2 linked regions of the Homo sapiens genome follow. The protein of the gene in region 1 interacts with the protein of each later gene in a pairwise test. Each region holds a gene or a part of one and is shown on either strand. Other genes may lie near its edges.

Region 1 (3,082 bases):
GCCCTGCTCCTGTTGTCACCCCAGAGAGCATGGGCTTGGCTTTCTGCTGAGGTCCCTCTCTTATCCTGGGATCACTGGTGTCACGGAGTGGGAGGCCTTGGTCTGAGGGGGCTGCACCCAGGTCAGTAGAGGGAGGGTCCCAGGCTCTGCCAGGAGTTGAGGTGAGGACCAAGCAGGCTCCGCATCCAGGACACATGGGTTCCAATGAATTTCGACATCTTTTGCTGTCGTTCTTCGGAAGACCTAGGCACAGGTGGCCAGATGTGGGGTTTCTTAGGTCCTGTTCCCTCTCAGGCATGTGAGCTCTTGATCTGAGTTTCTCAGGCCAGCAAAAGAGTGGGATCCAGGCCCTGCCTGGAGAAATGTGAGGGCCCTGAGTGAACACAGTGGGGATCATCCACTCCATGAGAGTGGGGACCTCACAGAGTCCAGCCTACCCTCTTGATGGCACTGAGGGACCGGGGCTGTGCTTACAGTCTGCACCCTAAGGGCCCATGGATTCCTCTCCTAGGAGCTCCAGGAACAAGGCAGTGAGGCCTTGGTCTGAGACAGTGTCCTCAGGTTACAGAGCAGAGGATGCACAGGCTGTGCCAGCAGTGAATGTTTGCCCTGAATGCACACCAAGGGCCCCACCTGCCACAAGACACATAGGACTCCAAAGAGTCTGGCCTCACCTCCCTACCATCAATCCTGCAGAATCGACCTCTGCTGGCCGGCTATACCCTGAGGTGCTCTCTCACTTCCTCCTTCAGGTTCTGAGCAGACAGGCCAACCGGAGGACAGGATTCCCTGGAGGCCACAGAGGAGCACCAAGGAGAAGATCTGTAAGTAAGCCTTTGTTAGAGCCTCTAAGATTTGGTTCTCAGCTGAGGTCTCTCACATGCTCCCTCTCTCCGTAGGCCTGTGGGTCCCCATTGCCCAGCTTTTGCCTGCACTCTTGCCTGCTGCCCTGACCAGAGTCATCATGTCTTCTGAGCAGAAGAGTCAGCACTGCAAGCCTGAGGAAGGCGTTGAGGCCCAAGAAGAGGCCCTGGGCCTGGTGGGTGCACAGGCTCCTACTACTGAGGAGCAGGAGGCTGCTGTCTCCTCCTCCTCTCCTCTGGTCCCTGGCACCCTGGAGGAAGTGCCTGCTGCTGAGTCAGCAGGTCCTCCCCAGAGTCCTCAGGGAGCCTCTGCCTTACCCACTACCATCAGCTTCACTTGCTGGAGGCAACCCAATGAGGGTTCCAGCAGCCAAGAAGAGGAGGGGCCAAGCACCTCGCCTGACGCAGAGTCCTTGTTCCGAGAAGCACTCAGTAACAAGGTGGATGAGTTGGCTCATTTTCTGCTCCGCAAGTATCGAGCCAAGGAGCTGGTCACAAAGGCAGAAATGCTGGAGAGAGTCATCAAAAATTACAAGCGCTGCTTTCCTGTGATCTTCGGCAAAGCCTCCGAGTCCCTGAAGATGATCTTTGGCATTGACGTGAAGGAAGTGGACCCCGCCAGCAACACCTACACCCTTGTCACCTGCCTGGGCCTTTCCTATGATGGCCTGCTGGGTAATAATCAGATCTTTCCCAAGACAGGCCTTCTGATAATCGTCCTGGGCACAATTGCAATGGAGGGCGACAGCGCCTCTGAGGAGGAAATCTGGGAGGAGCTGGGTGTGATGGGGGTGTATGATGGGAGGGAGCACACTGTCTATGGGGAGCCCAGGAAACTGCTCACCCAAGATTGGGTGCAGGAAAACTACCTGGAGTACCGGCAGGTACCCGGCAGTAATCCTGCGCGCTATGAGTTCCTGTGGGGTCCAAGGGCTCTGGCTGAAACCAGCTATGTGAAAGTCCTGGAGCATGTGGTCAGGGTCAATGCAAGAGTTCGCATTGCCTACCCATCCCTGCGTGAAGCAGCTTTGTTAGAGGAGGAAGAGGGAGTCTGAGCATGAGTTGCAGCCAGGGCTGTGGGGAAGGGGCAGGGCTGGGCCAGTGCATCTAACAGCCCTGTGCAGCAGCTTCCCTTGCCTCGTGTAACATGAGGCCCATTCTTCACTCTGTTTGAAGAAAATAGTCAGTGTTCTTAGTAGTGGGTTTCTATTTTGTTGGATGACTTGGAGATTTATCTCTGTTTCCTTTTACAATTGTTGAAATGTTCCTTTTAATGGATGGTTGAATTAACTTCAGCATCCAAGTTTATGAATCGTAGTTAACGTATATTGCTGTTAATATAGTTTAGGAGTAAGAGTCTTGTTTTTTATTCAGATTGGGAAATCCGTTCTATTTTGTGAATTTGGGACATAATAACAGCAGTGGAGTAAGTATTTAGAAGTGTGAATTCACCGTGAAATAGGTGAGATAAATTAAAAGATACTTAATTCCCGCCTTATGCCTCAGTCTATTCTGTAAAATTTAAAAAATATATATGCATACCTGGATTTCCTTGGCTTCGTGAATGTAAGAGAAATTAAATCTGAATAAATAATTCTTTCTGTTAACTGGCTCATTTCTTCTCTATGCACTGAGCATCTGCTCTGTGGAAGGCCCAGGATTAGTAGTGGAGATACTAGGGTAAGCCAGACACACACCTACCGATAGGGTATTAAGAGTCTAGGAGCGCGGTCATATAATTAAGGTGACAAGATGTCCTCTAAGATGTAGGGGAAAAGTAACGAGTGTGGGTATGGGGCTCCAGGTGAGAGTGGTCGGGTGTAAATTCCCTGTGTGGGGCCTTTTGGGCTTTGGGAAACTCCATTTTCTTCTGAGGGATCTGATTCTAATGAAGCTTGGTGGGTCCAGGGCCAGATTCTCAGAGGGAGAGGGAAAAGCCCAGATTGGAAAAGTGCTCTGAGCGGTTCCTTTGTGACAATGGATGAACAGAGAGGAGCCTCTACCTGGGGCAGGAATGGAAGGTGTCTTGCGCTTTTGTCCCAGTGTTGTTGAACACAGTGCATGAGCTAGGTGATGGACACCCGTTATTTGCAAGGGTTTCCTGTGAGATAAGTGTATGTCTCCCCCAAAAGGGAGACCCAGAAGCCACTGGCCAGGTGCTTTTCTACCTGGCTGGGAGAACCAGAACTGACTATTAAAAAGGCATTCTAATTAGGTTA
Region 2 (7,190 bases), about 140 Mb from region 1:
GTCCCAGCTACTTGGGAGGCTGAGGCAGGAGAACGGCGTGAACCCGAGAGGCGGAGCTTGCAGTGAGCCAAGATCGTGCCACTGTACTCCAGCCTGGGCGAAAGAGTGAGACTCCATCTCAAAAAATAAACGAATAAATAAAATAACGATAATAATAATAATCCTAAGCCCCCTCCCCACAATGAAGTAGCTGGTATACCCCAGGAGGGGGTCAATGGTCTAGACCATTGGATGCCCTGGTTGAAAGGCAGATGCTGAGTTGGTCAGTCTGGGGGTGGCAGCTGGGATTCTGCATTTCTAGTGAGCTCCCAGGGGATGCTGGCACTGCCAGTTCCGACCACATCTGTTATCCAACACTGCAGAGAAGCAAACTGGACCTCTCGCTCAGAGCCAGTTTGCACTCTGATGGTGAAGGGGTTCAAAAACAATGACCCTCCCCACACAAAAATACCAGATATGTCCGAGAGTACAAAGCCAGGAGTGGCGAATTCAGCCATCTATGTCAGGCTCCCTTCCAGAGCTCACTGGGCTTGGAGGAAAGCAGCAGCGGGAAGGGGTGAGAATATTCAGTGCCTCTGAAGCAAGAGACTTCCTAAGTCAGCGTTGCAAAGCCAGCTATCTAGGGGAAGAAGGCAGGTAAGTCTGCAATGAGGAGCTCAAATTCAGGCCCCATCAGATGAAGTCAGAGCTTTCTGGTCTCTCAGCATCATCAAGAAAAGTAGACTGTGTACAGCCACTGAGAAAGATGGTCCCTAGTCCAACCTGTTACCCTCCATCTACGCTGGGCAAGATTTGTACCCCTAGAAAAGTAAAGAGAATAACAGGGCAAAGTGGGCTCACAGAAAACAGATACAGCAGACTGGAAACCAAATACAACAGATAACAAAAGCACAGAGACACAGGAACCAGGACAACAAACTAAGGAAGTTGAAATAAGCTAAGACTCCCTACAGGATGGCATATATATACACACAATAAATGGCATGTTTAAGTTTACATGTTGTGTGAAAGAAGAGCATCTGTTTATTTGTCCCATTGATAATGTGCTTTTGATGCCATCGTACTGTAGTTTACTGGATCATTTCTATTGTGTCTTAAAATTGTCAGGAAAAGTAAGTTATTGTCCCATGGGGAGAACACAACTGTACAAAAGTAAACTGTAATTCATGGAAGGAAATGCATCCCCATCAGCATAGAAACTGCCCATCTTTGGCTGTTGGAGAATTATGAAAAGCTAAAAACTAACTTGTTATATGTGTACAAACCACATTGCTAGAACAAAATTTCATTCTTTTCCAATCTAGCTTGTGACAGAGAAGCATTCACCATTCAGTTTGTTTTTTTTTTTTTAAGCAAAGAGGAGTCTTCCATCTTATGCATAGAAGTGATGTTACTGAAAAGTGTAGAAAATAAGACTGATAAAAACATAATGTGAAGCATGTTTTCACATCTGTGGAGAGCTGAAGTACCTACGATTTCCCAATCTGTCTCTTCCACAATCGCTGTGAGGCTTTGCCATTTCGTCAAAATGGCATTGGGGCCTTTTTTCCTTTGAAAAATACTCTTTTTTGGCCGGGGGCGGTGGCTCACGTCTGTAATTCCAGCACTTTGGGAAGCCGAGGTGGGCAGATCACTAGGTCAGGAGTTCAAGACCAGCCTGGCCAACATGGTAAAACCCCATCTCTACTAAAAAATACAAAAATTAGCTGGGTGTGGTGGCTGGCGCCTGTAATCCCAGCTACTTGGGAGGCTGAGGCAGGAGAATCACTTGAACCCAGGAGGCTGAGGCTGCAGTGAGCAGAGATTGCGCCACCGTGCTCCAGCCTGGGTGACAGAGTGAGACTCTGTCTCATAAAAGAAGAAAGAAAAAAGAAAAATACTCTTTTTTAATTTAATGACTAAACAGAAATGTGAGGTGGTTACAATACCAAAAAAATAACAGTAACTCTGACATGTGTGCATCCATTTGTTTCCAGAGAATGGAAGGAAACTGGGAGGGAGAATTCTACAGACTCCAGGTGGGAAATACTGTCATACTTACTGTAGGTACCACAGCTATGTGTGTGCAATGCATCTATTATGGAATTGTGTTCCCAAAAATATATGTTGGAGTCCTCATCCCCGCTACCTCAGAATGTGACCTTATTTGGAAACAGGATTTTGTCAGAGGTAATCAAATTAAAATGTAGTTATTAGGGTGGTCCTTAGTCCAATAAGAATCGTGTTCTTATAAAAGGAGAAAATTTGGACACAGAGACACACACAGAGGGAAGACGATAGGACAAGATACAGGGAAAGGAAAGCAGGTTCAAGCTGAGGAGAAAGACCTGGAATAGGTCCTTTCCTCACAGCCCTCAGAAGGAATTAAGACTGCTGACATCTTGATCTAGGACTTCTGGCCTCCAGATCTGTGACACAATACACATCTGCTGTTTAGGTTACTTAGTCTGTGGTATATTACTATGGCAGCTGTAGTAAACTAATACAGAAACCACGAACGACTGTATTTGAGGCGCAAGTCCCTACCTAATTTGCTCATAAATTGCCTTCTCTGAAATCCCGTGTCCTCAAAGGGAAATCACGATTGCATTAAATGGGGGAAGCTCTCTTATAGTACCACCTCTAAGAACACATAATTTTATTGACTATATATTATGCACTGGTACTAAGGGCTTGGCCTGCCTCACCTCCTTTATCACCTCCATTTTACCCAGGAGGAAACAGACACAGGTGCACTTTGTCTATCATAGATAATAATTCTTGCTGAATCCAGGCATGCCCCTGTCCACTATGTCTGCACTAAACTAGAAATACACTCTCATGTTTACACCTTTTTTTTTTTGTCTTTTTCCCCTTTTGTGGAGAACAGGGTCTCGCTATATTGCCCAGGCAGTTCTTAAACTTCTGGGCTCAAACTATTCCCCCAACTCCCACTTCTGCCTCCCTAAGTACTGGGATTACAGGTGTGGGCCACTGCGCCCAGCACACCCTCACGTTTTTAAAGTCTTGAAATTCTCCTATTTCCGCTTCTCAAAAGGTCCAATCCTTTTCCTTAAACGTGAATATACCACATAAACGAACACGAAATAGAAACAGGGACAAAAAAGTATTTTTTTGACGATGGCAAACGGGAAAAAAAAAAAAGAAAGCTGTTTAGGTGGCATTTGAAAAGTTAAAAAAGAAAGAAAACTCAGAGCAGCCCAAAAGACAGATGATACCTAAGAAGGCACAACCAGCAAGACATGTTGACTGTTAGTATTATTTCAGCATCCTCCTTGAGCAGCTTGGCTTTGCTCTGGGACAATGCACCAGCCTGGGATGCTCAGAGATGCAGGCACGGAGGTTGTGCAGCCTCTCCGCACACTGCGCATGCGCGGCTGCCGGTTCAAGTCGCGGTCCAGGACCGCAAGGAGGCGGGCAAGCGAAACTGAGAAAAACCCACCCACGGTCCAGGGACTGGGGGCTCGGGCGAACCCACCCAGGGACCTCCTGACCAAGGCCATTTGTCTGCAACCTGATGGCTAGAAGTGATACCACCCTGAGCATCTTCAATCCCCTTTCCCCACTCTACAGCCCCTTGTACTGTCCCTCCTTCCTCATTCACACCCCTGATCCAAACTCAAGCACTGAATTTGTCCCCAGACGAGGGCCTCGGCTCTGCGCGGCCGCTGGCTGAGTAGCTTGGCCCGATTCCGGGTGTGAAGTGAGGAGGAATTGATGCGGGTAAACATACAGCGCCGGCCCGCGCCGCATCCCGGGTCTGCAGCTACAGCTGCGGCGAAAGCCCAAGGTGCGCGTGCGCGGAGCGCCACTAGGCAGCCCAGGACGCGCGGGCTCGGAGCCGGGCGAGGGGCCGCGGAAGGCGCGTGCGCAGAGCGACCCCGGGCGCGCGAGAAGGTCCTCAGTGCGCGTGCGCGGGGCGGGCGGGTGCGCGCGCACTTCCTCCTCGCCCCCACCCAGACCCAGAAGGCGCCACCATGGCGGCGCCCCCGCAGCCCGTCACCCACCTCATCTTTGACATGGACGGACTTCTTCTGGGTGGGTAGTGTGCAGCCGCCGCCTCCAGTAAGGGCGGTCTTGTGTGGGCGTGGGGACGGTCGGCGCGGGGTACGTCACGGCCTGGGGGCCGCGGCGGGGCGGTGTTCATGCAGGGACGCTCGGGCTCCCGCGCGCTCTGCCCCCGGCTGGCCCCGAAGTCGGGCGGCGGCCAGGAGCGCCCGCGGGCCCATGTCCGGGCTGGCGGGCGCGCGTGGCCGCGGCGTCTACGCGGCCCCAGCACCCGCTTCCGGTCGGCGGCCCGCGCGTGGGGCCGGAGCACGTGGGAGCAGTCCCTGGGGTCCACCGGGCGGGCGCGCGGCTCCGCGTCCTCTCCTCAGAGCGAGGCGCGGCGGGACCTCCGCGCTCTCTTTTCGGTTACGCATGCGTGCGACCTTGAGCGGTGCCCAGCCTCAGCTTCCCCGTCTGCAAAGTAGCCTGGAGGATACTTGCCTGCCTGCTCCAAGGTTGCTGCTGTGGGCGCACTTTGATGGTAGCATCCTGCATGGTAGCGGTTCTCTACCTGGCGGTTTTGCAGCCCTGAGGGCATCTGGCAATGGCGATGTCAGGAGACATTTTGGCTGTCACAGCTGGCGAGGAGTGATGGGGTCACTGGCATCTAGTGGAGTCCAGACCAGTGATACTGTTAAACTTCCCGCAGTGCACAGGAGTGCCCTATGCAACCATAAGGAATTATCCCGCGCCGTCAACAGTGTAGAGGCACAGAAGGTCCGTCAAGTGGCCTGGCTGCCTAGGGTGACCAGCACCGGGGACATCACCTGTGGGCTACTTGTAAATGTAGAAGCTGGGGCCCCACCCTACCCCTGCCCAATCAGAATCTGCATTTTAAGCGCGTGAACGTTTGAGAACAGCTGCTCTATCAATCCGAGGCATTAAGAAACCCTTGGCAGTGTACTAAGGTAGTCAGTCTTAGCACATGTGAACTTCACCAGCCAAGAGGAATTCAAGTAGAATTCAAAGAATAAAACCCTGTTTTTAACTCAAGACAGAACTATGCTGAGCTCTACCGAAAGCCTTGACACAGTTAACACTATGACACATAATCACCAGGAGGCTTCATATATCTATAAACATGTCTGCATACTCTTTGTAGACAGCTGACCTGCTTGGTTACGTATATCATTCCTTCATTTCAAAACCCTGCAAGTTAGGAGGAAGTATTTGCATGTCACTAATTAAAAAAAAAAAAAAAAAAAAAACCCTGCAGCTCAGAGAGGTAAAGCTACTTGCCCAAGGTCACACAGCTAATAAGCCAAGCTGAGAAACGATTCTGGATTGATCCAGTTCTAAATATAAATGATGTTGAGCTCATCTTAAATTGTGAATGTGACCTTGTTTCTGCTCATCATATTGCTGGGTAATTCCCTAGCAGTGTTTCCTTTTAAAAAGGCATGCAGAAACCATTCTCTTCATTTTATGAACACAGAGGTGTAAACTGATGAATTCCAAAGGAAAAAAAAAATCCCCGTAGAGGTCACTAATTGGAGCCAACGGTGTATGCAGCTACTAAATTTGAAATGACTCAATTTCAGAAAGCTTGTGGGATACATAGGTATAGTTTGTAGACATGAATTTTCCTACTCCGGTGGTCAAAAAGTTAAATTGTCAAATAAATTTCTTATCCTCTAATAAAGGTCCAGAGAACCTGTTCTGGGAGTCTCATGAATTTTAATACCAAACAAGATGTCTCATTAAAATTAAATTTATTAAACTTCTAAATGAGCTTGGTGCCTAATTCTGATTCTAGATTCACACATAGCCATGCCCTGAAGTGATGAATGTGACTTAAATGGCATTACAAGCATTGACCTCACATTGTTACCCAATCCTCTGATCTAGTCAGATAACCAAGAATTAGTGCTATTTGGAAAAATAAGCCCTGCTTCTTTTTATTCCCCCCCCTCATTTTCTGCCCATTTCCTCCTTTCCTGCCCTACCTCTTCTTTGAGGTGGTAAGGCCTTGCAAAACTTTCTTGGAAATATACCTTTGTTTATCCCATTCTTTCACCAAATGTGTAAATATAAAACACAGCTTTCCAAGATGTGCCACTTTAATTTAATCTACCAGATTATGCCTGCTGTCATTCTTTAGCACCTCACTTCAGTGTATCTGTTGTTTGCATAACAATATACTATCAATTTATAATGAGTTATTTTACAATAGGTCTGTTTTTCGGGAATTTTGAATGCATTTTTCTAGGAAGTTCTGTTTGTCTATGTAGCCCCAATACTTGCATACTTGGGGAAGTAAAATTGAAAACGAATAGTTTCATGGAGGATTGTTAACATTAGAGGAGAAGATTGTTTAATCAGAGGAGAATGAGGAAGTAAATGGAGATTTTAGAGGAAATGTTGACCAGGAAGAAAGCCAGGACACTTTCCCATGCTTTTGACATGCACGATGCTGTTAGTTGTCCTTTAAAAAAAAAAAAAAATACACTTCGGTTTCTGTTTCTCATGACCAAGGTAAGAGTCAGTTATGATTTAGGTAATATTAATAATTTTGGCTCTCAAATGCCATTCAGAGAAAGAGAGTAGGGGAGTGGGATTAGTTAAAAACTGGGATGATTTTGAAATAAGAAGATGACAATTATTAAACAGTATCTCAGCAGCTGGACAGGGAAGATTATTCTGTTTGTAAATAACTGAAATTAGGAACACAAAAGATGGTCCCAATTTCTTTAAAAGAGAAGACAGTTTGTTGTCCAGAGCAGTTCTGTCTCATAGAATTGAGCCAGGTAAAAATTTTGGGGAGCAATTTTTAATAAGTAAAAAGATACAGATGACATTGATTTGGATGATGTATGTTATGTAACCTAATGTATCAAAAATATTATTTAATACAAAGTCAGTATAAGAAAATCTTTGAAGTGTTTGACATTAATTTTGATACTAGGTCCTCAAAATCTGTGTGTGTTTTATACATACAACACATCTTAGTTTGAACTAGCCTCATTTCAGGCACTCTGTAGCCTCATTTGGTGGGTGGCTACTGGCTTGGACAGCATGGGTCTAGGTCTTTGTGGAGCAACCCAAGATGTCTGTTGATAATGGCTATGCTGGGAGGGTCAGGCAGAGGGTGGGTGTTAAGAATATTCAGAATTAGGAGTTTTGGTGTATGTAAAATGTGGTAT

What was found.
Region 2: the proteins of MAGEA4 (region 1) and PUDP interact in binary tests that used the Homo sapiens proteins (3 or more experiments, as listed by UniProt).

Annotation. Positions count from the first base shown.
Region 1 is NC_000023.11:151,922,701-151,925,782, forward strand, and holds the end of MAGEA4 (melanoma-associated antigen 4), read left to right. Parts: intron 1-511; exon of another isoform or gene 512-752; 5' UTR 753-824; intron 825-899; 5' UTR 900-964; coding exon 965-1,918; 3' UTR 1,919-2,470; downstream 2,471-3,082. UniProt on the Homo sapiens protein: Regulates cell proliferation through the inhibition of cell cycle arrest at the G1 phase. Also negatively regulates p53-mediated apoptosis.
Region 2 is NC_000023.11:7,144,901-7,152,090, reverse strand, and holds the start of PUDP (pseudouridine-5'-phosphatase), read left to right. Parts: upstream 1-3,937; 5' UTR 3,938-3,977; coding exon 3,978-4,038; exon of another isoform or gene 4,039-4,379; intron 4,380-4,488; exon of another isoform or gene 4,489-4,801; intron 4,802-7,190. UniProt on the Homo sapiens protein: Dephosphorylates pseudouridine 5'-phosphate, a potential intermediate in rRNA degradation. Pseudouridine is then excreted intact in urine.